Linked DNA regions of Homo sapiens. The protein of the gene in region 3 purifies or fractionates together with the protein of the main gene of each other region. This does not show direct contact. Each region holds a gene or a part of one and is shown on either strand. Other genes may lie near its edges.

Region 1 (7,027 bases), on a different chromosome or scaffold from region 3:
CTATGACAAAGTAGGTTATAATGTGATCCTACTGTCCCTGATTTGTGTGACATTATAAAAGGGGAAGTGAGGGAAAGGGGACTAAAGAGATGGGGAGGGGCTGTACACTGGGAGGTAGGGATAGGAGCAGCCTGAGAGGCTAGTAAGTTAAGTTCTTCCATTACTCTGGCTTGAACTATATCTGCAGTGGGTAGAAAGGTGAGGCAAGAGCTATATTCCTTGGTTCTTTCCATTTCCCATGAATCTGTGACCTGCCACAGCTGGCTTCCTTTAAGAACATCTCTGAAACCTGGTGAGGTCAGGGACCAGCTGCAGTTGAAGTATGTAAGAACTATGTACTTTACATTGGAGCCATGGCTTCCTGACAGACAATATAGGCCAGATGTTGTGAGAAAAAAAAACAAATAGTTCATTTGTTTGTTTATTTATAGGCAATTATAAGTCTCAACTATTGCTCAAATAAAGTAGACCATCAGAGCTTGGCCATTTGAGAAAATTTAAATATAGGCAACATCACTGCAGCTTAGTTTGCTGCCTATGTACAGCCCCCTTTTTTTTTTTTTGTGAGACAGAGTCTTGCTCTGTCACCCAGGCTGGAGTGCAGTGGCAAAATCTTGGCTCACTGCAACCTCCGCCTCCCTGGTTCAAGTGAGTCTGCTACCTCATCTTCAAAGTAGCTGGGATTACAGGTGCCCACCATAACACCCAGCTAAAATTTTGTATTTTTAGTAGAGACAGGGTTTCGCCATGTTGGCCAGGCTGGTCTCGAACTCCTGACCTCAAGTGATCTACCCACCTCAGCTTCCCAAAGTGCTGGGATTACAGGCAGCCCTAACGTTTTTATGTAGTGTATATTAGGGCTTACCAACTGTCATACACAATTTGGAGTCCTTGGTGGTTGCAGGTTTACCTACCAGAAAAGGAATAAAACAATTTATAGAGTGTTTTCCTTAGTAATATTTCAAAACCACAATTCTACTTGTTACTATTTTTACTGGTCTGTAAGACTATAAAATACTACTTTAAAAAAGAAATTTTCATTTAAAAAGCTTAATGCAATAAAAACACTGTGATCTATTTTGTTTGGAAGTTGACTGACAGCAAGCAATTATTTCCTGCGTGAGACTTTTGAGATTCATCAAGTCAATGGGAAAATTCTAAAACAATTTTCTTCTGGCAAACCGATTCTAAACATGGCATTGCATTGTCTTCATAACCATTCTCATATAGTAGGCATAGTAATACTATTTCCACTTTATATATGGAGAAACGTAGGCTCAGAAGTTAAACAATTTACCAAATATCATCAGTAGGACAGCCAGGATTAAATTAGGTCTGTAGACAATTAGCCTAATACTCTAGTTACTTGACAGACAGAATATTCAAATACCAATGAGCCTATCCACACCTTTCCTTCCATTCTTTCATTTCTTCATTATTGACCTTTCCCAATATGTAAATAATTTACAAACAAATATCACTACTGATACTAAAAAACACTACTGACTTATTCGTAAAAATGTCTAAACACCTTTATATTAGCATTTTCAATGCTTCTCAACATAGAAAGCAAAACAAACCTGTATTCCAAATACAGGCTTCTATCTAGATCATGATACTTTAGTTTTTCTATATGTTTTTATCATTATGTTATGATGCTCTTGTCCATAAAGAAAATAAAATTCAAATAACCAAAGAAAATACATGAGCTGGTTCTGAAAATGTGGCTTTCAAACAAAGATCCAAAGTGGTAAGCAAAATTGTCCTAAGACCATGGAATTATTAACAATGCATAGGATCACTTTCATATCCACAGTTACATTCCTGAGAATCAATTGATTTATAATTTTCATCTGCTAGTCACACAAGTTTGGTATTTAAAATGAGCAAGTCAATGTGCTTTATAAGTGTTGTGTGTTCTTGGAATGTCCTCTATAAGGAAAATCCCCTTTTGGATTTCTATTACCTATTTTGCCTTATAATTGCTGCTGCTTTCTAACATTTCTCAAACAGTCCTTCTATCAAGTAGACTCTGAGACCAGTCAGAATTTCCAAAGTTGGGTATCCAGTTTGGTGTATATCCATTATTCAGAGGACTCCTCTAGGTTTCCAAGGTTTGTGCTTTCCTTGAAAGTCTCCGAGTTAGCCTCTGGTATGGCACTGGATTCTGAAGCCTCTGGCTGTAAACTGTCTCCATCAAGGATAATGTCTTCAGGATTTGGTGGAGGGGGACAGAAATCTTCATTGGGGCAGATTTCCTGGAAAAGTGTTTCAGCCTGGCCAAGGAAGAAAAGATAAAATCGTTTTTGGAAATCGGTTTAAAATGTGTGTGCATTTCTGGCATTAACTAAAAAAAAATAAGTGTTTTATCCTTAAAAATTTGCTTAAACAGGCTACAGTACTTAATCAGAATACATGAACTTCCGTAAGTCTGTTTTCAGAATTCTATGACTTCTCCCTTTAATTCTATACATGTATTGAGGTCCACTCTTCAAGGATGGCAGTACCTCATCAGGTTCATTATCAAGTGTTCAGATTGTTGAGAACTGAAATACATTCATTCTATATATCAATAGAAATACAATTTCCTTAATATTGTTTATATGATTTCTTATAGAGCCTTGATATGGTTTGGTTCTGAGTCCTCACCCAAATCTCATCTCAAATTGTTATCCCCACGTGTTAGGGGGTGACTAGATTATGGGGGCGGCTGTTCCCATGTTGTTCTTGTGATAGTGAGTTCTCAGAATATCTGATGGTTTAAAAGTATTTAGCAGTTCCCCCTTTTCTCTTTCTCCTGCCACCATGTGAGATGTGCCTTGCTTCCCCTTCACCCTCTGCTATGATTGTAACTTTCCTGAGGCCTCCCCAGCCATGTGGCCTTGTGAGTTAAACCTTTTTTGTTTACAAATTACCTAGTCTCAGGTAGTATCTTTATGGCAGTGTAAGAGGCACTAGCATTGAGAATTGGTACCAGGAGTGGGGTACTGCTAAAAGATAACCTGAAAATGTGGAAGTGACTATGGAATTGGGTAACAGGCAGAGGTTAGAACAGTTTGGAGGGCTCAGAAGAAGAGAGGTAAATGTGGGAAAATTTGGAACTTTCTAGAGACTTGTTGAATGGTTTTGGCCAAAATGCTGATAGTGATATGAACAATGATGTCCAGGCTGAGGTGGCCTCAGATGGAGATGAGGAACTTATTGGGAACTGGAGCAAAGGTGACTCTTGCTATGCTTTAGCAAAGAGACTAGTAGCATTTTCTCCCTGCCCTAGAGATCTGTGAAACTTTGAACTTGAGAAAGATGATTTAGGGTATGTGGCAGAAAAAATTTCTAAGCAGCAAAGCATTCAAGAGGTGACCCAGCTGATTCTGAAAGCACTCAGTCATGTGTGTTCACAAAGAGATGCCTTCACATTGGAACTTATGTTTAAAAGGGAAGCAGAGCATAAAGGTTTGGAAAATTTGCAGTCTGACCATGTGGGAGAAAAGAAAAAACCATTTTCTGGGGAGGAATTCAAGCTGGCTATAGCAATTTGCATGAGCAATGATGAGCCAAATGTCAATAGACAAGACAATGGGGAAAATGTCTCCAGGGCATGTCAGAGATCTTCCCTAGGAGGAAAAATGGTTTAGTGGGCTGGGTGGGCCCCACTGCTCTGTGCAGCCCTGGAACATGGTACCCTACATCCCAGCTGCTCCAGCTCCAGCCATGGCTAAAAGGAATAAAGGTACAGCTTGGGCTGTTGCTTCAGAGGGTGCAAGCCCCGAGCGTTGCCAGCTTCCACGTGATGTTGGGCCTGAGGGTGCACAAAAGACAAGAGGTGAGGTTTGGGAGCTTCTGCATAGATTTCAGAGGATGTTAGGAAACGCCTAGATGGCCAGGCAGAAGTCTGCTGCAGGGGTAGAGCCCTCATGGAGAACCTCTGCTAGGGCAGTGCTGAAGGGAAATGTGGGCTTGGAGCCCCCACAAAGAGTCACCACTAGGGAACTGTTTAGTGGAGCTGTAAGAAGAGGGCCACTGTCCTCTAGACCCCAGAATGGTAGCTCCACTGACAGCCTGCACCATGCACCTGGAAAAGTCACAGGCACTCAATGCCAGCCCATGAAAGCAGGCACAGTGCCTATCCCCTGCAGAGCCACAGGGTTGGAACTGCCCAAGGCTGTGGGAGCCTAGCCCTTGTATCAGCATGGCCTGGATGTGAGACATGGAGTCAAAGGAGATTTTGGAGCTTTAAGATTTAATGACTGCCCGGCTGGGTTTTGGACTTGCATGGGGCCTATGGCCCCTTTGTTTTGTCCAATTTCTCCCATTTGGAATGGGGACATTTACCCAATGCCTATACCCCATCGTATCTTGGAAGTAACTAACTTGCTTTTGATTTTACAGGTTCATAGGCAGAAGGGACTTGACTTGTCTCAGATGAGACTTTGGACGTGGACTTTTGAGTTAATGCTGGAATGAGTTTTAAGACTTTGGAGGGCTGTTGGGAAGGGATGATTGGTTTTGAAATGTGAAAAGGACATGAGATTTGGGAAGGGTCGGGGCAGAATGATATGGTTTGGCTCTATGTCCCTACCCAAATCTCATTTGCAATTGTAATCCACAAGTATTAGGGAGGGACTGGTGGGAGATGAATGGATTATGGGGGCACTTTTCCCCATGCTGTCCTCGTGATAGTGACTTCTCACAAGATCTGATGGTTTAAAAGTGTTTGGCAGTTCCCTCTTTGCTTTCTTTGCTCTCCTGCCGCCATGTAAGACATGCCTTGCTTCCCCTTTGCCTTCCACCCTGATTTTACATTTCCTTAGGCCTCCCCAGCTATGAGGAACTGTCAGTCAATTAAACCTCTTTTGTTTATAAATTACAGTCTCAGGTGGTATCTTTATAGCAGTGTGAGGACAGACTAATACAAGCCCACATGTGATACTGGTATAGTCTAATTTAGCATATAGTAATTTTAACAAGTCACTGTTCAAATGAAGAAAACTCTTCACTGTTTGTTCAACTATTTGCTTTTTGATAGAATTTCCATTCCCTGGACTTTAAGGACTATAGCACTTGTTTAAGCTCATGGGTTTTGAAAAGATAGCCTCAGTAAAAATACTGGCTCTACGATTTAGCAGTTATGTGATTTGGGGAATGCTTTCTCAATTTCCGAGCTTTGGCTTCCTTATCTATAAAATATCAGAGATTAAGCCGACATATATGGTAGCTATTTTCATTATTACTAATAATAACATAAGTAAAAATGTCAAGATTTAAGCTGAACTTATTAGTATGACAGGGTAACAGAATAAAAAACCTTCAAGGGTATGTTCTTGGACATGCCAATTACTATAGACAATTTAAGTTTTTAAATACTTAATTGACAAAAAGTATATATATTTAAGGTGTACAAGGTCACTTGATATACACTGTGTAATGATTACCACAATTAAGTTAACACGTCCATCACCACTAATAGTTACCACTGTGTGTGTGTGTGTGTGTGTGTGTGTGTGTGTGTTTGTAGTAAGAATACTTAAAATCTGCTCTCTTGTCAAATTTGAATTGAAGAATCCTGTCATTTATGACAAGATAAATGAACCTGGAGGACATTATGCTAAGTGAAATAAGCCAAGCACAGAAAGACAAATATCACATGATCTCACTTATATGTAGAATCTAAAAAAGTTGAGGGTGGTTGCCAGGGGCTGGGGAGTGTAGAGCTGTTGGTTTAAGGGTATGAACTTTCAGCTATAAGTTCTGGGGATCTAATGTACAGCATGGTAACTATAGCTAACTGCATTTTTTATTATGGCTATTTGGAAATTAAACATTACAGATGCCTGTCTTTGCTCTCCATCCCGGAGACTCACCATACTCCTTTGCTAGAGACACGCAACCCCTGTAGAAGCAGGACCTAGATCAGACAAAGCCATTACCTCATACTTCCGTTCCCCTAATGGTCTTTTTGTCTTACATCTCTGTTTTTACTATCTGTAAAAGTTCTCCCTCCCTTTTATCTTTGGCATGCAAACAATCATCAAATTCTATCAATTTTATCTTCTATCTCTTAACTTCATCTGTTCCTTCCCCACTGACATAGCCCAGACATGCACCATCTTTCAACTAGACAACTACAATAGCCTCAGAATTGGACTGGTCTCCTTGCCTCTAGAGTTCCCCCATATAATCCATCTCCATGCCATCCTCAGATGGGTCAATGGAAAATAAAATTCTGTTTATTCCATTTTTGGCTTAAAATTCTTCAATGACTCCCCATCACCAATAGGATAAAATCCAAGATTCCTACTATAGAAAATAAAACCCTTCAGGCCTACCTTCTCTGATCTTATCATATACCATTTCATCTAGCCTCCATCTCTCAGACTTCTTGATTTACTAATACCTGTTTATTTGTATGAAACAATACACCATGATATTTATCTTTTACATCCTGGACTGGTACCAATGTTATTCTTCACATCCAGAATGTTTCAATTCTACTGTCTTTGATTTAGATGGAGAATTGCTACTCTTCTGTTATACCCCTCTCCGTAAGGTTCTCTGACTCCTAGATTGGGCTCATTTCTCCTTTCTGTTATTTCTAGACTTTGGATATATTAGTACATACGCCACACTACACTGTCATTTGTTTACATGCTTTTCTCCTTTACCTGACAGTGATTCCTCCAGGATGACAAATACTTTTAGTCAACTCTGGATCCTTAGTGCCTTGGCATAAAATAGAATGTCAGTAACATTTAATACAAATATTAAGTATAAATATAATAATTATTATTACTACTAATTCTTTTACTTCTTCTATGCTAGTTCCTCTGTGTTTGACACCTTGTCTCCCTTTTGCCTCCTCCCCATAGAATAGCTTTTACCCTAAACTCCAGTCTCTGTGGCTGGATCCCACACCACATACTTCCATATATCTTGTCATGCACCACCTGCCTCCTAAGATTAGCACCAGTTGCAGGTTGTCACACCACTCTTTCTTGTGTTCTACCTGCTTATGAAACTCCCACCTATA
Region 2 (7,491 bases), on a different chromosome or scaffold from region 3:
GCCTACACATGCTGAAAGCAGAGAAAAGTAAATGTTGCCAGCCTAACAGTAAAGTAAGATAGAGGGAAAAAATATGAAGAGTAAACTGAAGAGCTCAAAAAGCATAGCAGCCTGAGAGTAAAGGGGGCAAAAGTTCCTACAAAGCTGGCGGGGTCTTCATGGCTTCACCATGTTACAGCATAACACAATAGTTAATCTTCACTATGTGAAAACTTGGTTATCAAGTAAATTATGTTTCTTAGTTTGTTAAAGAAGTTGTGACAGCATTTAGAAAGGCATTATCCAAAAGCTGTGCTCTTTAGAGATAACCTTTAGTTCCTCAGAAAATTCAATTGTGTGGAATATTCCATTTCTTTTACACACAGAATGAAGATTTTACTCCTTTATACCAAATCGTTTTGTATCTTCTTGATTAAGATAACTATCAATATTTGTGATTATGAGCTTAGACTTAACAACTCATACAAACAATGGCAGCACTAAGCAACACAGCAACTCCAGCACTTCCTTACACTTCTTTAAAAGTAACAAGTTCCTAACACTGAAAGTACTTGCCTTTTTTTAGGTTCTTAAGTCTCAGGCACTAAAGTAAATTTTAAGAAAATTAATTAACTCCAGACATTCAAAAGTTAATTCTGAGTGCTAACTTTGGTTTTCTCTTCTTCTAATTTTTAATCATCTAATTCCTGGTAACACTAAAAATAAGGATATATGATTTCTCATTATCAAAATCATCCTGTCATCACTACTCCTATCAATGATGGTAATAATGTGATTGTCCTGAATTGATATAATTATCAAAGAACATCTCAGAAAACTTAGGAAGGCTCACAGAGATTAAAGTTATCACAGCTACAAAATGACAGCAGAAACAGGTCTGATTTCTAGTTAAGTATGCATCTACCATTCATCAAAGAGTTCACAATCCGAATGAAAATTTAAACAAAGCTCATTATCTTAACTTGTTATATAAAAACACTTTCACCATCTTTGATACAAAGTGATGTGAACGAGGCTTGTGGAAGCCTGCATGATGGTGGATTTGCACTCACTCGTGCATGCTTAACTGACCTCAATTGTGAGCAAATCTGAAAGACCAGCAACAACCATAGAAAAACGGTGGAACTAACCGGCTCTTAAAACACGCTGGCAGCAACACTACCCATTCCAACAGGCAAAATCCACCACAAACTACTAAGCTCAGCTTGGAATCCCAATTAGGCACTTAAAAAAAAAAAAAAAAAAGCACAAAACCTGCAGTGGGTAGGGCCTATTCATTTAGGCATCCAACAGTCTTCCAGCTTTTCAAAGACAGACACAGGATTATTCCTGGATTGGTCAAACATAACGAAGTATTCAGAATGAATATTCTCTAATAATTGCATATAACTATAAACAGAAAAATGACAGACCAGAAAAACACGATTCTAATTCTTCACAAACCTTTCCTAAAAAATTAGCCAAATAAAAGTTCGAAGGTTTTCTCTTGCCTAGAGACATCTAAAAGTGTTATTTTGGGATGTTACCTGTAAAAAAAAAAAAAAAAATTGGTTTGACCCTGAGAGATTATAATAAATTTCAAAAAATTTGAAGTGGAAGTCTACATTAAATGACTCAGGAATTTGAAGTCAGAGTACATAGGATACACAAGATTTACATCAGTATTCATCTTAATTATGATCAAGCAGCCCAAAGTTAGAATTTCAAATTTCCCCAAAAATTGATAGTTAAAATGGTTTTCTCCAAAGTGAATTCTTTTGCAAGATGAACATTTAAAAAAAAAAAAAAAAGAACAGAAAAAGTACAAACTACAGAACCTGCCTGCGTTATCTACAGATTACCTAAAGTTCCCTTAGAAACAGATAACCAGGAAAATCAATATACCATGATATTAGGTACACCTTGCATTCATATATTACAATGCATTCTTCATGTTATTATCTTCCAACTCCCTGAAGAAAGCTTCGGAGTACAGAGAACTTGGCTTTTAGCAATCCATCACCAACCCAATTCTTAGGGGAAAACAGTCCAGAAGAGACAAAGGAGGCAGAGAACCCACCAAACAAAAGGAAAAGGCGGCGAAGGTCAGGTGCGAAAGCATTTGACGGACAAGTTTTGAAAAAACTCAATTCCAATTCTACAGATGCTCAGTAAGTGAGAAGGGAGGGTGGCTAAAAGGATTCAATAATACTTCTCATTAGCAGGGGGGAGAAAGGATTAAAAGACTAATTTCCACGTTTTCGCCAAAAATATAAGTTAATCAAGCCCTAGCAGTTCCGAAGCAGTGATTATCCAAGACTTGTCAGGAAACCCCGTACTCGGCTTTGGCAGCCAGACTGACCCGGGGCAGCGGCCGAGGCGGAATAGGAAATGCAACCGCGAGGCCTGCACCGTCCCCTCCGCCTCGGGTGCTGGTTTCCAACCGGGCGAGGTCACCGGCCCAAACCGGGGAGCGGGACCCTTGGCCCGGGCGGCCTTCTCCCCTCCCCTCCGCTTCCGCTGGGGGCAAGCGCAGAGGCCGGGCTCGGCCGTCACCCCGCCCCGAGCCTCACGGCCCGCATCTCCATTTCCCCGCCTGCCCCTCACACTGGGAGCCGCCCGCTCGCCCCGGGACGCGGGGCGCCCCTGAACCCGCCCGCGCCCCTAGCCACGACTCCCGTCCCGAAAACTACGGCTGACGGCAGAACGAGACCCCCGAGGAGCTGCGACCCGCGGGCCGTGCAGGAGCCGGGGGTGCGCCCGCCCCGGCTGCTCAGCCCCGGCCCCTCAGCCCTGGCGCCCACCGTCAGGCCGGTGCCCAGCACGATCACGTCGTACTCCTCATTCATGGCGGGGCAGGCGCGGACGCAGGACCCGAGCAAGGAAAAGGCGCAGGGGCTCCGTGACCACCCTACGAGGCTGGGAGGCGCTCTTGGGCGCGAAGGAAAGGGGAAGAGAAAGAGAGGAAAATGGAGCTGGCGACAAGGCGAGACCGACCGCCACCTCAGACGGGAAGAGAAGAACTGGGCGGGGAGAGGAGGGGAGGGAGCGAGGAGGGGAGGGCTGTGACTGAGCCTCCGCAGCCGGGGCGGGGCCTGCAGGCGCCGGGAGGGCCGCCAATCAGGCGCTCCCGGCACTCTAATTGGTTACGTCCCCGTCGCTCGCACAACTTTTTTTCCTTCCCCGCCTCTCGCGAGAGGAAAAGGGCGGGGCGTCGCCATTTTGGCTTCCGGTTCCCCTTGCGGCCTCTGCCACGGTGGTTCGGGAGGCGGCGCGCGGGCCGGGGTGGAGGTGCACGGAGCCGCGGGCGGGGACTGCTGGCCACCACCGTTCTGACTCCCGCCGTCGGGGCGGGAGCTCGCTCGGTCCAAGGTCCCAGAGCCGGATCGCCGCCCTTGGACTTTGAGCGGGCGCGTGCGGCGGCCACGTGGGCGAGGAGCGCGGGCCGGGCTGCCTCTCGGGGGTGGCGGCCTTGGTTCCTCCCGCGGGGCTGGGCTTGCCGGGGCCCGGAGCCCGCCGGGAAGAGTTCGGAAATCACACGTGTCCTTTTTCCCGCTCTGTGCCCTCCTTGTTTAGTGCGTTGCCGGTGGGCGCTTTAGGAAATTGGTAGGAGGAAAAGCGGCTTCTTTTGAAAAGGTAACCCTTAACAGAGATGAAAGTGAAAGCCAGGTTTCATTGGGAAGCCGATCTGCACCTACCGAGGGCTGTAACTTAAAGCCGCTGTAAACGTGGTAGCTGATCCTTGTATGCAAAGGTTTAGGCCCTAAGCTTAGAAACTGTTCCTTGCTTGCCTTCTACCCCGCTCCTCTTTTTCTAGAATTCTCTTAGGAATCTCTGGCTTCATTGAGGACACAGGTGTAAGCAGAAGCTGTGTTCTCAGCTCCAAGAGGCCGACCCCACGAAAGCCTAAGCAGGTGAATTTCGTAAAGACGTTGACAGTTGGAAAACCTGTGCTTTCAGCACGTGATAAATCTGCAGAGTCAGCAGACAATGAAGATTTGGCATTCAAGAACTCCTCAAATACTTCTCGATAGTAGCTATTCAGAGCCTGCCTTGATAGACCGAACTTGCTCATATTTAAATCATTAAGATAGAGGAAAGAATGTAACAACTTTTTAAAATGTTTCTTACCCCATAAATACTTGAAGAAGATATGTTATATTGGACCATGGATCTTTCTGGGGGGGAGGGGAGAAGAAAGCAAAAGTAAAGTTTAAATTTACATTCAACCTTAATTTGATTGTATATATTTGTGACCAAATGAATTAGTGCACAGTTGACCATACAACTGATTATGCAACAGTGAGTGTAACTGACTTTTCTTTTGGCTAAGCTAATGATGACTAAAGAAGGTCCTTCTGTTGCTCTGTCTTCAAGTCATCAGGGGGTCATACTACCTATATTTTTGAACCAATATGAAATAACCCTTTTTCTTTATTTTTCTGAGACAATCTCACCCTGTCGTCCAGGCTGGAGTGCAGCGGTGTAATCATGCCTCACTGCAGCCTTGATCTCCTGGGCTCAAGCCATCCTCCCACCTCAGTCTCCCCAGTAGCAGGGACAAGAGGTACAGGCCACCACACCTGACTATTGGCCCTTTTTTTTTTATTAGCAATAACAATAAAGAGCTTTTTTCACAATTGCCATCAGCCTCTGGCTCTTGAAGAGAAATTTAAGCATGTCAACTGAATTATGTTAACCATGTTTTAGGTGAAGACTATTTTATCGATACTCAAGAGTTGTGAGAAACTTGAAGACACTGAGATAAGGGAATTGAATTTAAGGCTAATAAGGATCCCTTCCTTACTTAACACTGAAGTTCATTTTAGTTCACAGTACAGGCCCTATGGCCCAACAGAAGGACAATAACAATCAAACCTGGACTAAGCCTTAACGGACTGAGTGCATCTAAAATGTTGTACCTGAGCCAGGCACAGTGCTTCACACCTGTAATCCTAACACTTTGGGAGGCTGAGATGGGAGGATCACTTGGGGCCAGGAGTGGGAGATGGGAGAATCACTTGGGACCAGCCTGTGCTGTAGAGCCTAGGTAACAGAGACACTGTCCCTATAAAAAAAATTAGCTGGAGGCCGGGCACGGTGATTGATGCCTGTAATCCCAGCACTTTGGGAGGCTGAGGTAGGCGGATCACAAGGTCAGGAGTTTGGAGTTTGAGACCAGCCTGGCCAATATGGTGAAACCCCATCTCTACTAAAAATACAAAAATTAGCCGGGCATGGTGGCACGTGCCTGTAGTCCCAGCTACCCGGGAAGCTGAGGCAGAGCAATCGCTTGAACCCGGGAGACGGAGGCTGAAGTGAGCCGAGATCGCGCCACTCCACTCCCGCCTGGGCAACAGAGTGAGACTCCGTCTCAAAAAAAAAAAAAAAAAAACTGGGCAGGCTGGGTGCAGTGGCTCACGCTTGTAATCCCAGCACTTTGGGAGGCCAAGGCGGGTGAATCACGAGGTCAGGAGTTCAAGACCAACCCGTCCCAAGATGGTGAAACCCCGTCTCTACGAAAACTACAAAAATTAGTTGGGCGTGGTGTCAGGCGTCTGTAATCCCAGCTACTCAGGAGTCTGAGGCAGAGAATTGCTTGAACCCAGGAGGCAGAGGTTGCAGTGAGCCAAGATCGTGCCACTGCACTCCAGCTTGGGTGACAAAGCGAGACTCAGTCTCAAAAAAAAAATCAGCTGGGCATGGTGGCATGAGCCTGCAGTCCTGGCTACTCAGGAGGCTGAGCTGGGAGGATCACTTGAGCCCAGGAAGGTCAAGCCATGATGATGCCACTGCACTCTAGCCTGGGCAACAGAGCAAAACCCTGTCTCAAAAAAAGAAAATTCTGTGCTTTTCTTGGATCTTCCACCCCACCCATTCCAGTTGCAAGGGAACTTGTAGATGACAAATACTGCTTAAGGTGAAGAGGCTTGAAAGCCACTAATTGGTTGAGTTGATCTCATGCCACAGATGGTAGTTCCTGCTACAGTGAAACCTTAGGTTTAGGGGAAGTAGGTTGGTTGGTGAAGATGAGTGGTAAACATCAATCTTTATTTTTAATTTTATTTTTTGGTGCCAAAACCCAAGATCAAACCAGGACACCATCAATCTTTAAAATATTTCAAATCTTGAAATCAGCCAGGTGTGGTGGCACATGCCTGTAGTCCCAGCTACTCGGGAGACAGGCAGGAGAATCAGTGGAACCCGAGAGGCTGAGGTTGCAGTCAGCCAAGATCGCGCCACTACACTCCAGCCTGAGTGACAGAGCCAGACTCCGTCTCAAAAAAAAAATAAAATAAAATATTTCAAACCTTTATGCAAAGCAGGAATCCATGGAGTCTTATTTATACTTGGGTACATGGGAATAATTGTTTGCTGATCTGTTTTTACTAAGCATCCATCTGCCCTTTGAAAAGGAGAGATTTAATCTAAGGAAAGAAAATGAGAGCGAACCTCAGCCCAGACCATCTTTTTCTCTCCTGCATCACTGTGGCAGTTTCTCAACAGGCTTTTTTCCCTCTCTTTTTCCTCTTCTCCTATCTGTTCTGTCCATTATCTTCTAAAAACACGCATCAGATCATGTTCAGGCTTCTGTATATCTTTTGTACTTAGAATACATTGTAGATCCTAGCCAGGCATGGTGGCTAACGCCTGTAATCCCAGTGCTTTGGGAGGCTGAGGCAGATCACCTGAGGTCAGGAGTTCGAGACCAGCCTGACCAACATGGTGAAACCCCGTCTCTACTAAAAATACAAAAATTAGCCTGGTGTGGTGGTGCACATCTGTAATTCCAGCTACTCAGGAGGCTGAGGCAGGAGAATTGCTGGAACCTGGGAGGCAGAGGTTGCAGTGAGCCAAGATGGCGCCACTGCACTCCAGCCCGGGAGACAGAGCAAGACTCCATCTCAAAAAAAAAAAAAAAAAAAAAAGGGATACATTGTAAATCCTTAAATATGACCTAATACCTTAATCTAGCCTCTGTATGTCTCTCCAACTCTATTTTTTAGTGCTCCTTGGCTCCTTGATCATTAAACCCCAAACATGCATGTGTTTCGGTTCCTAGAATCTGGTCAAGCTTTCAACCACCCGAGGGCCTTTGTACTCTTGGTTCCATGGCTACCACCCCTCACTTCCCCCTGCACTTCTTCATACAGCTAACTTTTTCCACTTCCTTAGGTCTCAGCTTTCCCCTCAACCATCATTCTCTATCAGTACCCTGCTTGTTTCTCACTGCTCTTATTAGAGGGGGTAATTATTTTCTTCACTTGTTCTTTGCTTTTCAAATTGGATGTAAACTCCATAGGGGCAGGGATATGAAGCCTGGACAGCCAGTAAAGGGCTGAGCAACTAGTAGAGGATGAGTAAATATTTGACAAATGAATAGGGGACTTGGAAGTTGAGCCCTAGATCAACAAGGACTGAATATGATGATATTGGTACTAGTTTCCTTTTTTCTTTTTTAAGACAGGGTCTCACTCTGTTGCCCAGGCCAGAGTGCAGTGGCACAACCAT
Region 3 (6,175 bases):
GGGGCCACTCAGGGATGTTCCTAACTGGTGTGGTGTGGGGCTGGGGATGGAATATGGCAGCTAGATGTTGTCAAAGGTCATTATAGTTCACCTTAAGTTCTTGCCTTTAAATGGCTTTCTGAAAATCACCAGAAGCATGAGAGATCCAGTCCCTGTACCCTCTCCCCCCTTCCTAATCCCCTAGCCATGGCAAGCAGAGTGGGGATGAAGGAATATATCGTACCCCTGACTCAGTTCTGCCTGGAGGCTCCCTTCCCATCAGCCTTTCAGCAGAATGGAGATTAGGGGAATGCGTGTGGATTTACTCTCATGAGTGTGTCCCATCTTTACCCCTTCGGAGTTGGTGGACAGCCCAACTCCACCAGTAGGAGGAAGAAGCAAAGCAGCAAAGGGCTTTAGGTAGTGGACATACCACCCAGGCATGACAAAAGGGACTCTGTGGAGCACACACTTCAGGAACTGTTTTTGAACCCCCCCATTTATGACTGCACCACTTAAACACAGACAAGAAGCTTTGTTTTGAGAATTAGGACAGTTTATTGTTTGACCAACATGCTGAGTCTTTTCCACATTTTACACAGTTTAATGTGAAATCAACATGGCGGCTATGTCTTCTGAGCCCATAACAGATGGAATTGCCACCCTCTGTGCTCCTCACAGCCAATCACTTTAAAGGGATGGGTGAGGGGAAAGTGAGGGGAGAAGTGGACACACACCGCGAGATGCAGGCTGGCCTTCAATGCTATGGAGGCTTCCCACCTCCTGAAGGAACCATCTAAACCCCTGCTGCAAGGATTTCCTGATGAAACCACACACTGCTGGGAGTGCCAACCAGACAGGGGTCTGGAGTCCAAGGAGTTTGCACATTGAGATCCCAAGGTTTTGGAACACCTAAATAGTTCATGTCAAACAAAAATTCAAAGGGTGTCCTGATCTGTGTGGGTGCCCATGACAATCAATCAGAGTAGACTTGGGGACTGGCCCTTGTGCAGTAGAGGAGCCCAAAATACCACCAATATTCTCACTCATATGCTGGGAAGAACCTAGTGTCCTAACCAAAAAGAGTAGAGATGGTCTGAGGAACACACCCACACACAGCAGTCCTTGCTGTGTAATAAATATGGAGTCACATTTGTTCACACACAGGGCAGCAATGGATGAAAAATGGAAACTTCACTGGTTCTGATCACTCCTAACTTGCTGGGTGATCTTAATAAGCAAGTTGCCCTTCTCCATCCTGGTTTTCCTGCCTGTAGACAGGAAAAGTTGTGACAGCTCTGCTTCACATAGCTGTAACAAGGTGACAATGCCTCACATTCTTTGGGGAGAGGCAGTTCGGAAACGAGTGTGCGCACAATCTGCTCGGTTGATGCACACAGACATCCTTCTGTTCAGCTGCCCCTCAAGTGGCTCAGACATGCCTCACTGTCCTCGGCTACCTGGTCCCATCTCATCCTGACATCCTCACCTGCCTTCCATCTTGTGAAGGAATGAGGCTGCTCTACCTGCAGGATGCTGAAGCCAGGAGGGCCATCCCTTTATTGTCACAACTGGTATCCCAGGGCAGGGCCTCCCCGCACTGGCTAGCCACCAGGATGATGCAGACGTTGCACCCCAGATGTGTCTGCACTCTTAACTACCACCATTTCAATCCTTGTTTCTGTTGCCAGAGATACTGAAACTGGTCTGGCCATTGCTCCCCTCAGACCTGGGAACATGACTGAATGTTTAAGGATGACAAGAAGAGAGCAGCGATAGATAGCAAGGAGGCCTCTGACCAAGGGAAACTGCTGCCAACAGCTACCAAGCCAACTAGCCTTGGATCACACAACTGCAGCCATGGTGCTCATGATTCTGATGTCACACCTTCATGTTGATGTATGTATGATCACCCAGCAAGTTAGGAGTGATCAGAACCAATGTGTTTCCACTTGTAAATAGGCTGTTTGCTTTTTCCATCTTACACTCAACTTTCCTGATGCCTGCAGAACAGGAGCTTTGTTGATAAGCTTTTAAGATTCACCCCCTTCACTCCCACCATCCCCAAAAAAGAAGGCCAAGAGGATCCTGCTAATCTGCCAGGTCACGTCTAGTCTTTGGGGAGAGGGACTGAATTGCTCAATTGAGAACATTTCCTCAAAGGAATCCTCCAATTTGCCCTCTGCTAACCCATCTGGATTCAGCAAAGATGCAATGCTCTTGCTGGGGTGCTGAGGCAATGCCATGACATCTTCTTCAAGAGCACCTAACAGTTTATTATGGAACCTTAACTCTGTGCCAATTCTACCTGCAAGCAAGGGGACAGGGATGGTGCCTGCTCAAGACAAAAATCAGGGAACCAACAACTTCTGAAAAAGAGGTCTGGCTGCCTTTCCACACCCCAGGAAGGGAGGGGCGGAAACCGCACGTGCCGAAGGGAGCGCCATGGAACCACTGAGATGGGAGGATGGGAGGAAGCCACCCTCAGCCTCAGAGGCCAAGGGGCTGGGGAGAACCCAAACTCAAAGAGAGGATGTTGTGTGCATGCTAGGAAAGGCAGGACTCACTAAGGCCATGTCAAACCAAATGCTATCTTTTACTGCTCCTCTAGGCCAGGATGGAAACACAGTCCACGGTGCCTTGGATGTGTGTGCCCCTGAGAAGGGAACTGAGTTTCTACTGTTTTATGGGATGTTTTTTTAAAAAAGCTAATCTTTAGTGCCAAGAAAATAAAAATCTACCATACGTTCATTCACTGAGACCCAGTGCAGATTCCTGTAAATGGGGCGGTCTCAGAGGCCACAGGTGATGGCCCCCGCTGCCAACCAGGCAGGACACTGTCATGTGGACTCCTGTAAATTCTCTCGAGGTAAGTAAGCACTCTTCCAACAAGCACCACTTGGGGGTGTGCCCATGGTGGGGGGACACTGGCCCACACAGGCATGCACACCCGTGCATATAAAGTACATAGAGAAATGGTGGAGATATTCCCGTGGGCTATGTTTGCCTGTAGTTTAACACAACTATGCATTATTTTATTGATGGCAAGACAATCACAAGTTATTTGACAATATTAAGTATTTCTTATTTCAACACGTTGCAGTACTTTTGAATTTCCAAAACTTATCACAATGCAAGTTCCAACTTGAGAGCAGGAGAAACAAGAATATACATTGAGCACATGTATCTCCGTGAGGATGTGTTTGTGGAAGGTGTATACACAAGTCTATCTCTATATATAATTATGTACACACATATAAAAACTAAACACATGACATCTGAAACACGTTCAAACATTGGTCCTTGCCTTCTGCAAGAGGTGCTCAGTGGGATCCTGCTTCCTCTCTTCTTCACCTGAAGATAAATTCCTTGCTAGAGATGAGCTCTGGCATACAGCCTCCTAGGCAGAGGGTGTGTGGCAGGCCCACTGCACAAATATCAGTCCTGCCAGATTCTGCTGCACTTACTGCCTGCCATTTCAGATTAATTTCTGAGAAGTTTCAAAATTCATTCCAACGACCTTGTGGAGTTCAGCCCACCATACCCCAGATGGTCATTCATCCCATCTATGACATGCCCAGCAGCAGCCTGGAGGGAGAGCCAATGACAGCAGGGAGGGTGGGGTTTACATTTTGGCCAGACTCACTGCCCATTGCACCTGGCTCTGTGCAGGCTCAGGGCAGTGAGTCTGAGTCTATTTGGAATGCTGGCCAAGTAGGTTATATCACTTAGTGGGAAGAGAGAGTTCTCTTCAGAGACTTTGCAGATTCTCAGGACTAAGCCATTCTCAGGAATGAATCAAAAATGGAAGAGATGGCTCTCTGGGGGCAAGCAGCCTTCTGGAGACCCCACCTGAACCACATCCTCAGGTGACCACAGCGCAGCCACAGTAGCCACAAAGATATGTCCACAAAGACTTCAACTGCGCCATGCCACTGGGGTGAAAACATAGCAACAAATCAGCTTTTCCAGAAAGCACTCAACAATATTAGCAGCTGAGGCTCTAAGAACATGGATCTTTCAAGGTGGTGGTTCTGCAGACAACACCCCCCCCCCCCCCCGCCTCCCCATCACAGAGGATCAACTCCAGGTGGTCCAGCTTCCCTGACATCCAGGAGGAAGGCTTCAGGATGGCACACTGCCCAACATCACACACTGAGTTTCTTAGACTTGGCCCAGGCATGTGTACTGACTGCTGGGTGGGCTGGTTAAAATATTTTCAGAAGTACACATGGCACCCCAGTCTATAAACCACGCACCACGCAGCTGCAATTGCCAACAGCACCTCGTCCTTCTGATGGCCTCTTGCTCTGCCAGTCCCTGAGGGCACAGAGAACACAAGGTTGCCTGTACCCTCAACCCCCTTCAAGGCTTTTCAGGGAAAGAGAAGGAGAGGTGGGAGCAGTTCCTCTGGGGGCTGCTGCCGGGCTGCCTAGAGCCCACAGACCTTGGTCTCAGCTCCACACGAGGTTGACGACCCACTCTGGCCATGGAAAGACAAGAGTCAGAGCTACCTTTTCAGAGGCTGATGTGTTCAACCAATGTTTGATTTAACTGGAGTAGGGCCTAGAGAGTGGGGCCAGATGGCCCCAGACTGAAGCCTAATTAATTTGCTCAGTTAATTGTTTTAATTTATTGGGCTGGGGATAGGAGGAAGGCAGAGGTGATGAATGGTTCAAAGAGAACAGGAAGGAGGAGGTGTGTGGAAAAGGTTCTCTATAAGTTTACAAATATACAAAAACAAAAAGCACATCTTTCAAATAAAAATGACTACATTTTTATCTGGCAAAAAATTGTATACACATGATTTAAATTTTTTTTAAATTTTAACAGTTTTTGGCAATCTTAATAAAGTACAATATATTACAACCAAACCAAAAAATAGTTGTTTAAGTAACAGCCGTTAAGAGTGATGTGATCCCTGATGCCCAGCCTCCCTCCCCATCCCACCCTACTCCTAAAGACAGAGAGAAAAGAAAAATCCTCCCATCTTGATAACTCGGTTCCCTCCCCCCTTAGGAAGCTAGCCAATAGGAAGCAACACAACAAGCAAGGAGTGTCATGGGAAGCCACAGGTCGGCTCTGCATTAGCAGGAGCAGCCGCCCTCGCTGGCCGGGGGCTCCTGGGGTTTGTCCAGCTTGATGTCGATCACTGCAGGGGGACGGGCTAAGGAAGATGACTCTCCTGGACAAGCTGCCACCCCACTTAGCCCTGTGCACTGTACCCTTTGGCTACTGCTCTGTTTCTCTGCAAACACCTAGGGACTTGGCTCTTGGTTTGGCTGGGCTAGGAAGGATGCAATACCAACTCCACCTTGCCTCCTCTTCCCTTCACCCGTCCACTTCCCCCAGCGCCTGTCCACCCAAGCAAAGCCTGTCTTGCCTGGGCCGTGGGATCACCATCTATACCAAGGCCAGGGAGTCCCTTTCCCAGAAGCCTTCCCTCGACCAGTGCTCAAATGCCAGCTCCCAGCCCTGGCCTCAGCCCAGTTACCTGTCAGCCCCACTCAAAGTGCAATGGAGATGAAGAGCCTGCTGGGTTCACATCTCAAAGCACAGGGGTATGTGGGCCTTGCCTAATTGGCAGCAGGAGCAAACCCTTCAAGCTTTAGTCAGAACACATCACTTAGATCCTGAGGATGGTTACTGTAAGAAGCCACATCCATGGGGCCTAAGCACAGCCCCCTCGCCAGCCCTTTCCACTGGTGCCCCCGGGGGCTGTGGGCTAAAGAAGCACTTATCAGAACCACCACAGGGACTGGTTCCAAATGCACAGCCAGGCTGGCCCTCTGCCTTCCTCATCGGGCTCAAAACCAACACTGTGAGATTTTAGCCTTGCATCAAACCAGACCTAATTATAGCTGAGGATCAGGCCCTTTGATACCTCACAGAATTGCTCTTCCTGGACAGGGATTGCCTTAAGACAGGGGTGTGTGGGGTGTGGTGGTATAAGAAACACTGTTTTGGAACTTCTTGCTGGCATCCTAAGGATGCTTTTGTGGCTCCTATTTGAGGACAACAGGAGAGGTTCTTTTGTTTTAAGTACTATGAAAAGCCATGCTTCTCCTGAAGTTCACATTCTCTTTCCTTGCCTTGGCTGTGAGGATGCTCAGAGCCAACTTTTTGGCCACCTCTAACAACCATGCGGCCATGGCATACATTTTGAGTATGACTTTATCTCTGACTTTTCTTTGCT
Region 4 (7,027 bases), on a different chromosome or scaffold from region 3:
ACAGTGTAAAAGTGTTCCTATTTCTCCACATCCTCTCCAGCACCTGTTGTCTCCTGACTTTTTAATGATTGCCATTCTAACTGGTGTGAGATGGTATCTCATTGTGGTTTTGATTTGCGTTTCTCTGATGGCCAGTGATGGTGAGCATTTTTTCATGTGTTTTTTGGCTGCATAAATGTCTTCTTTTGAGAAGTGTCTGTTCATGTCCTTTGCCCACTTTTTGATGGGGTTGTTTTTTTCTTGTAAATTTGTTTGAGTTCATTGTAGATTCTGGATATTAGCCCTTTGTCAGATGAGTAGGTTGCGAAAATTTTCTCCCATTTTGTAGGTTGCCTGTTCACTCTGATGGTAGTTTCTTTTGCTGTGCAGAAGCTCTTTAGTTGAATTAGATCCCATTTGTCAATTTTGGCTTTTGTTGCCATTGCTTTTGGTGTTTTAGACATGAAGTCCTTGCCCATGCCTATGTCCTGAATGGTAATGCCTAGGTTTTCTTCTAGGGTTTTCATGGTTTTAGGTATATTAATTTCTTTAAAACTAATCATTTTCTACCACCACATCTACTCCTCAACACATCTCTGCTTCTATGCTTATTAAATCCCATTCTTCACTGACCTCTCTCTGCTGCCCCTGTTTTTAATAAGCACAGCCATTAAAAAGAATAATGTAGATCTATATATACTGGCTTGGAAAGGAATCCACAATAAATAGAATAATACAGTCTTATACACCAAGTACCTATGTGTGTGTTTGTATATGAATAGACAAAAGGCTAGAATAGTGCTATTTAATAGAATTATAATGCACCTCACAATATAATTTTAAGTTTTCTAGTAGCTGCATTTAAAAAGAAAAAAAACAAGTGAGTATCAATAAATTTCATTTTACTCAATATATCCAAATTATTTCAACATGTGATCAATATTTTAGAAATCAAGATATCGTACATCTTCTTCCTAAGTCTTTAAAATCCAATATATAGCTTATGCATACAGCATATCTTAATTTGGACCAGTCACTTTCAGGTACCTAACAGCCATATATGGCTACTGGTTGTCATATTGGACAGTACAGATCTAAAAGGCTACACACCCAACTGTTAAGAATGGTTTCCTTTGGAGAGAGGGACTGGCTAGGTAGAGAATAAGAAATGAGGAAATTTAACTTCTAATTTTATCTTTTATTACATTTGCAATGAATATTTCTATTTTATCATAAAAACAATAAAAACTGACTCCAACTACAGACCCTCCAGCATTATTCTAGGTGCCCCACTAATAGAACTATCTTTTCCTCTGATATCAAGTCTAATTTCTCTGCCTCAATGATTCTGTTATTACTCAAAAACCCTCTCCTTTGTGACCCCAATCCCTCACTGGTAATCTTTCACTCTTCACAGCTCTACAGTATCTCACATTTAATCTCTACACTATCCAAACTCCTGTAGCCACTACTCAAAGGCTACAGGTGAGTTAACCACTTACTCATGTTTCATGATGTTCAACTGCGGGAGGGTCTGATTTGGGACCACAAAACTCATTCTCGCACAAATGTCCTTATAATCTTGATTCCTTCTCTCAAAGTCCTCCACGTGTGCAGCCAGATGGGAATTGACAATGCAAAAGGTGGTGTTGTGAAATACAAATCTCACAGCTACCCCACCTTTGTTTCCCTGTTAGCAAGAGTAATTATTCAATTAGTACACAGAACAAGCAACTGAACTTTACATGAACATGAATAATAATCAAGCTCATTTCCAAAGTAACTCACCATTTTCCCCATGATTCCAGTTCCAACTGTTTCTGTAGCAATATCACGAATGTATCGACACTGATCCTTTCTGGCAAATATAAGAAGCATCATCCCAACAAGGCGCACCAGTTGAACCTATGAGTTCCGGGGAGTTACAAAAGGTTAATGTTAATACCAATCTTTGCCACATTTCTAATGTCCCACGACTAATTTTCCATCAAGATGATATACTAGTGCCCAAATCTGACTTCATATCCTCTAATTTCTCAGTGGACCCCGTCAAGTGGAAACTAATATTCTCTGGGGAGGCTCTAATCTGGCACTGACCAATAAGAGTTAAAAGCTGGGAGGGACAATGAGTACTTTCAGCTCTAGATCTATTCTTTTAATCACTTCTTAGCCTACCAGGAGTAAGCAGCATTAAAAGTTCAAATAATAAAGCCACTATCCCAGCTTGTTCCTTCCACCTTTCCTTCCTAGTTTCTGATGTCTAATTTTCTAAGAAATTGAAATCAACCAAACAGCAATCTTTTTTACTTATTTTTAACTTGTGAACTACAGCTAGAAATATGTCTGAGATATACATTAGTCAGGGACCTATATGAGAGGAATAACATCCCCAGGAGTTTTATTACCTATATAAACTGTTAGAAGATGTAGAGAAAAATTACTCACATTACTTCTTTTAGAGACCTTAGTATGATAGCCCTGTAATTAACTCTTCTGGTAGCTAAATGCCTTTACCACATACCTTCTAAAGACAAACAAATTGGCCCATCTTGCTAAAGTCAACTCTCCTCTTAACTTAAAACCAAGTTTAGAACTCGTTCAAATTCCACACCACTTCTATTCTTGCTCTGATTGCAACACATGCACCATGCGCCCACGTTTCATATTGCTTTTCTGTAAAGCATTCAATTCTGACCATGTCAGTGAGTAATCTAAATCTTATATGTAATTATTTCAAACTAAGTATTGATATAAGCATAATAAAATTCTTTTTTCCCCTAAAAGCTATCTAAGCAATGAAAATATAGTATCAGAAAGCTTAGGGATTTTTTTTTCTAGGAAATAAGGATGAATGATCAATCTGCCCTATCCCAGTATTACACACAGAGAAGAATTCAATTAAACTATTCTTTTGGAACAAGTTGTAGATAATGGAATAACTCCCGGTGAGCCCTATTTAGTCATACACTTAAAAAGATAATTAAATGCGGCTTACTTTCTTATACTTGGCTTTGGAATGCAAACCTCTCTCTACAGCCATGGACCATTCTTGTTCCTTCACAGATTCAAAGTAGAAGAAGGCTTCTGTGCTCAAGTCCAGTTCTTGGAATCTGAGGAAAAAAGGGATATGAGATCTATACATATCCCATAATTATCTCTGGCTACCTCCTGTCCCATATGTTGAAACATTAGATGAAAAAAAGATGGGAGAGAGATAAATTTTATAGAACTGCTCTGTTCACCCAGGTTATCAGTAAGAACAAGTAGCTTTCTTTTCTAAAGAATTCCCACAAGTACATTCATAAGCTATGCAAAAAATAAATCAAAATACCTCCCACAGAGGATAACAGCAGAGCTTTGCTCTTATATCCTAGGAACTGTCACTGTTAGAACTGACCCCAAGTCTTAGTTTCTATGCAGAATATATAGATTCCTACGGGTTTCAAGAAAATTAGATGCTTCCTTACACCATTTTAGGTATCTGTTCATTTCTGTTCTCACAAATTTGACCCGCAAGTTAACTCTCGTGTATAGTCTACAGTAGGTTTTACCAACAGTCTTTTTTAAAAAAGGCAAAACATCATGTAAATGAACACCAAACATATAGCCAAAAGGAAATTCCAGAAGTGTTCTTTACCCAATGCAGTAGATATCAGGAGGATTGGGATCACAGTTCAGCCAAGGTTCTAACCCGCTATCTGGAGACTGGCCATTCACATTCCAAGTTCCAACAAAAAATCTAATACATAATACGAAAAGATAATTTGAAAACAAAGATCAAGTATAAACCAACAGAAGTTCTTTCTTTTCGCTTCCATACAAAGGTATGTTCACAATATGCTAACATAATTCCTCAAAATGTTTTGCCACATATGTAAGAAAGATCTTTTGCATCTAGAACACAAAGGCAGTGGGCTTATTTTCTCTAAATTTTACATTAAGTAAAACTACAGAAGGAAACCAAGTCTTTATTTTTAAAAAATGCAAAGGTAATTGCTATACCACATTTCCTTTCAATTAAGCTCCATCCAAACTCATACTTGATAGGAGAGCTTATGGATGGGAAAGAGGTATCTTCATGCTGTAAGCTAGTCAAATATGGATAAATGTTCTATAAGGGGCTATAGTTGACTCCAGGAACTCACTTCCTGAAGGATTACAAGGACATCTGTGTAGGAAATTCTGATGAGGCAGACATAGTATTAAGGGGGAAAGCAGAAGGGAAAACTCATGACTGTCTTAACTGTTTACACACAAATATAAGCATAGTGGGGGATATGAGGAACTGCAAGTTTTAGCATAGGGATATAGTTATGACTGAATTAGAATAAATGAGGTATGACAGGATAGCAGATGGGACTAGAATCTTGGACTAGAAGGGTACATTCTGCTCATGAATAACAAAGAAATGTGGTGTTGCTTCATGCATTGGCGATACATGCCACATGGTACCTCACATGCAGCATACACACACAAGTCCAGAAAAAAGATGAAATAAAAAATAATACAGATAAAAGAACCCAAGATAGACCTCCCAATCAAGAGGACTGGGTGAAACTTTCTTTATTTACCAAAGTAAGTAAGTTAAGAGCTAGTGGTAATGATGGACTTTAATTTTCTAATATTGGCTGAAAAAAAAAAACTTAACAGGCCAGATATATAAACACGCTTGCTTATGGAATGTGCTAGGGGAAAATTCTCTAGTACATGTGACCTTGATTTGGTTCTCTAGGACTCAGTAGAGACATTAGTAGACATGGCATTATTAGTAGTTAGAAAATCCAAGGGAAGGCCAAGCACGGTGGCTCAAGCCTGTAATCCTAACACTTTGTGAGGCCAAGGCGGGTGGATTGCCTGAGCTCAGGAATTTGAGACCAGCCTGGGCAACCTGGTGAAACCCAGTCTCTATAAAAAACACAAATATTAGCTGGATGTGGTGGTGTGCACCTGTAGTTCCACCTACTTGCAGGGCTGGCGTGGGAGGATTGCTTACGACTGAGAGGTTGAGGCTACAGTAAGCCATGATCTATCTGCTCTCCAGCCTGGGTGACAAAGAGAGACCCTGACCCACACACACAAAAAAAGAAAATCCAAGGGAAACTGTAGCATCTGCATTATTTCTGATATGCATGTTATTGGCCAGCATAGAGACAGGAGCTTGAAACAGGCAACCATTCCTTTTTATCATATTTTGATTCTTAATTAGGCTAATGTCTTAAATATCAACAGGCCACTGTCTGTTATATATACTAACTTTTTAGACTCAGGAAGCAAAAGAGACACTAACCTGAAAGTCTGAATGTTGACATATTCTTTCTCTCGCTTTGCCAGGATATGTTTGATGAGACCCTCCCGCTGCCCAGATTGGGTATTTGGTACAAAGAGCTTCCGCATGGTGTTGGTCACTTTGGGCTGCTCCTTGTTAGAAGCTTCTTTTTCACGTGGAAGCCTAGCAAATAAATGAGAGATTCAAAAGTAAAATTGTTTAAACTATAATTCTCCTACAAGGCAAATATGTTTTCACATGGGACTTACATTTTATTCACTGAAAAGGGTGGAGGTGGGGGTTCCCGATGAATCCCAGTAGGCTGATTTTGTGAATTTATTTTCTTGTCCAAATTCATAGAAGAAAAATTGTCTTCAAATCCAAGAAGCCCTGAAAGACACAGACCCCAAAGTCAAACGGGGAAAAAATCTAACATCCAACATATCCAGGGTAACAGGGCTTTGATTTGATCACAATTTGATCAGTGGTATTACTAAACAGAAAACTATCATAAGGGTAGAAATTACTTGGATTGGAGTTCGAAGAAGCATACCTATCCCTGAAGCACTGATATACTAACTAGAACAATAGAAGTTTATAAGAACTTGGAACAGACTAGTAATAGCTAACATTTATTGAAGACTGAGCACAATGCCTGGTTGAGAGTAAGGGACTATATCATGATCTCACTTAATCATCACAAAAACTCCAAGAAGTAAGTACTATTAAAAATCTTCCCATATTACAGAAAGGAAAAGGGAAGTTCAGAGTTGTTGAGTAACTTGATGAAGGTTGTACAACTAGTAAGTTCTTGACTTGGGATTCAAATCCAGGCTGTCTGGCTCTCGAGCTTGTACTTTCTACCACCCTGCTAAGCTGGCTCCTGAACAGCTACCATGCTACAGGAAGGATAAGGAGTGAACACTGGTCAGTGGGCCTGGACTTGATAAAACTACTCTGCAGGAGAATGTGTCTGACATCAGCTTTAATCTACATCACCATATTTGGCCTGACAAAATCTACTGACTCTGCAATGACCATAGCAACAAGGAAACCAGGAACTTTTTAGTACCTGAAAAAACAGAAGGTTTGTCCTTAGTGTCTAATTTCTGGTACCAGCTAGATGAGTCCTTTTGCTCTGGAACAAGAAGCTGTGACTGAGCTAGAGAGATAAGGTTCATGGTCAGAAACTGGGAAGTCTTTCACTGAGTAGAATTTACTATAGCCAAAAGCCATTCTTTCAACATTCCTTATATGCAGGGGCCAGCACCATTTTTGGATACAGTGGAAGAAACTAAGGAAATGAGGGCAGCTCTGGGGTCATCTAGGGGCAGAAGGAGAATTATAGTCTATGGTAAGCTGTGCTTGCCATGACACTGAATATTCTGAAAACTTGCCTAGTGTCCTTAAAGCTGGGCAGATTTTTTCCCTAACCTATCCCTGTGTTCACTCCTGAAGAAAAAAAAATCAGCTATCAGGGCTTAAAGGGTGAGGTATTTTGCCAATGGCCACTTTCCTCTGTATCAGCATGTCAGAATTCCACTCCCGTTGAAATAGAAGAAAGAAAATCGCTGAGTCTTTAGTTACCTTTCTGAGCAGCAAGGACAGCTGAGAGGAACTTCAAACAGTGTTCCTCATCAGGGATTTCAAAGCGGCGCTCTCTGATCCAGTCCCCCTGAACCCGAATTTTGCAGCCACCTAAAAAGAATTGAAATCCATACATATACTGCTATGGGATAAAATGTTTTACTGGGATCATATTCTCAACTTATCAGGTTAACA

The links.
Region 1: the proteins of RAB6B (region 3) and CHM purify together in Homo sapiens (co-immunoprecipitation; 3 studies listed by BioGRID and IntAct, with this or other methods). This does not show direct contact.
Region 2: the proteins of RAB6B (region 3) and GDI2 purify together in Homo sapiens (affinity purification with mass spectrometry; 3 studies listed by BioGRID and IntAct, with this or other methods). This does not show direct contact.
Region 4: the proteins of RAB6B (region 3) and OCRL purify together in Homo sapiens (affinity purification with mass spectrometry; 3 studies listed by BioGRID and IntAct, with this or other methods). This does not show direct contact.

Annotation. Positions count from the first base shown.
Region 1 is NC_000023.11:85,862,546-85,869,572, forward strand, and holds part of CHM (rab proteins geranylgeranyltransferase component A 1), read right to left. Parts: intron 2,277-7,027; coding exon 2,085-2,276; 3' UTR 1-2,084. UniProt on the Homo sapiens protein: Substrate-binding subunit of the Rab geranylgeranyltransferase (GGTase) complex.
Region 2 is NC_000010.11:5,810,431-5,817,921, forward strand, and holds the start of GDI2 (rab GDP dissociation inhibitor beta), read right to left. Parts: upstream 3,005-7,491; 5' UTR 2,829-3,004; coding exon 2,784-2,828; intron 2,768-2,783; exon of another isoform or gene 1,885-2,767; intron 1,527-1,884; exon of another isoform or gene 1-1,526. UniProt on the Homo sapiens protein: GDP-dissociation inhibitor preventing the GDP to GTP exchange of most Rab proteins. By keeping these small GTPases in their inactive GDP-bound form regulates intracellular membrane trafficking.
Region 3 is NC_000003.12:133,823,722-133,829,896, forward strand, and holds the end of RAB6B (ras-related protein Rab-6B), read right to left. Parts: intron 5,132-6,175; coding exon 5,067-5,131; 3' UTR 514-5,066; downstream 1-513. UniProt on the Homo sapiens protein: The small GTPases Rab are key regulators of intracellular membrane trafficking, from the formation of transport vesicles to their fusion with membranes. Rabs cycle between active GTP-bound and inactive GDP-bound states.
Region 4 is NC_000023.11:129,557,241-129,564,267, reverse strand, and holds part of OCRL (inositol polyphosphate 5-phosphatase OCRL), read right to left. Parts: intron 6,944-7,027; coding exon 6,833-6,943; intron 6,408-6,832; coding exon 6,318-6,407; intron 5,636-6,317; coding exon 5,515-5,635; intron 5,429-5,514; coding exon 5,267-5,428; intron 3,719-5,266; coding exon 3,617-3,718; intron 3,090-3,616; coding exon 2,975-3,089; intron 1,885-2,974; coding exon 1,768-1,884; intron 1,670-1,767; coding exon 1,482-1,669; intron 1-1,481. UniProt on the Homo sapiens protein: Catalyzes the hydrolysis of the 5-position phosphate of phosphatidylinositol 4,5-bisphosphate (PtdIns(4,5)P2) and phosphatidylinositol-3,4,5-bisphosphate (PtdIns(3,4,5)P3), with the greatest catalytic activity towards PtdIns(4,5)P2.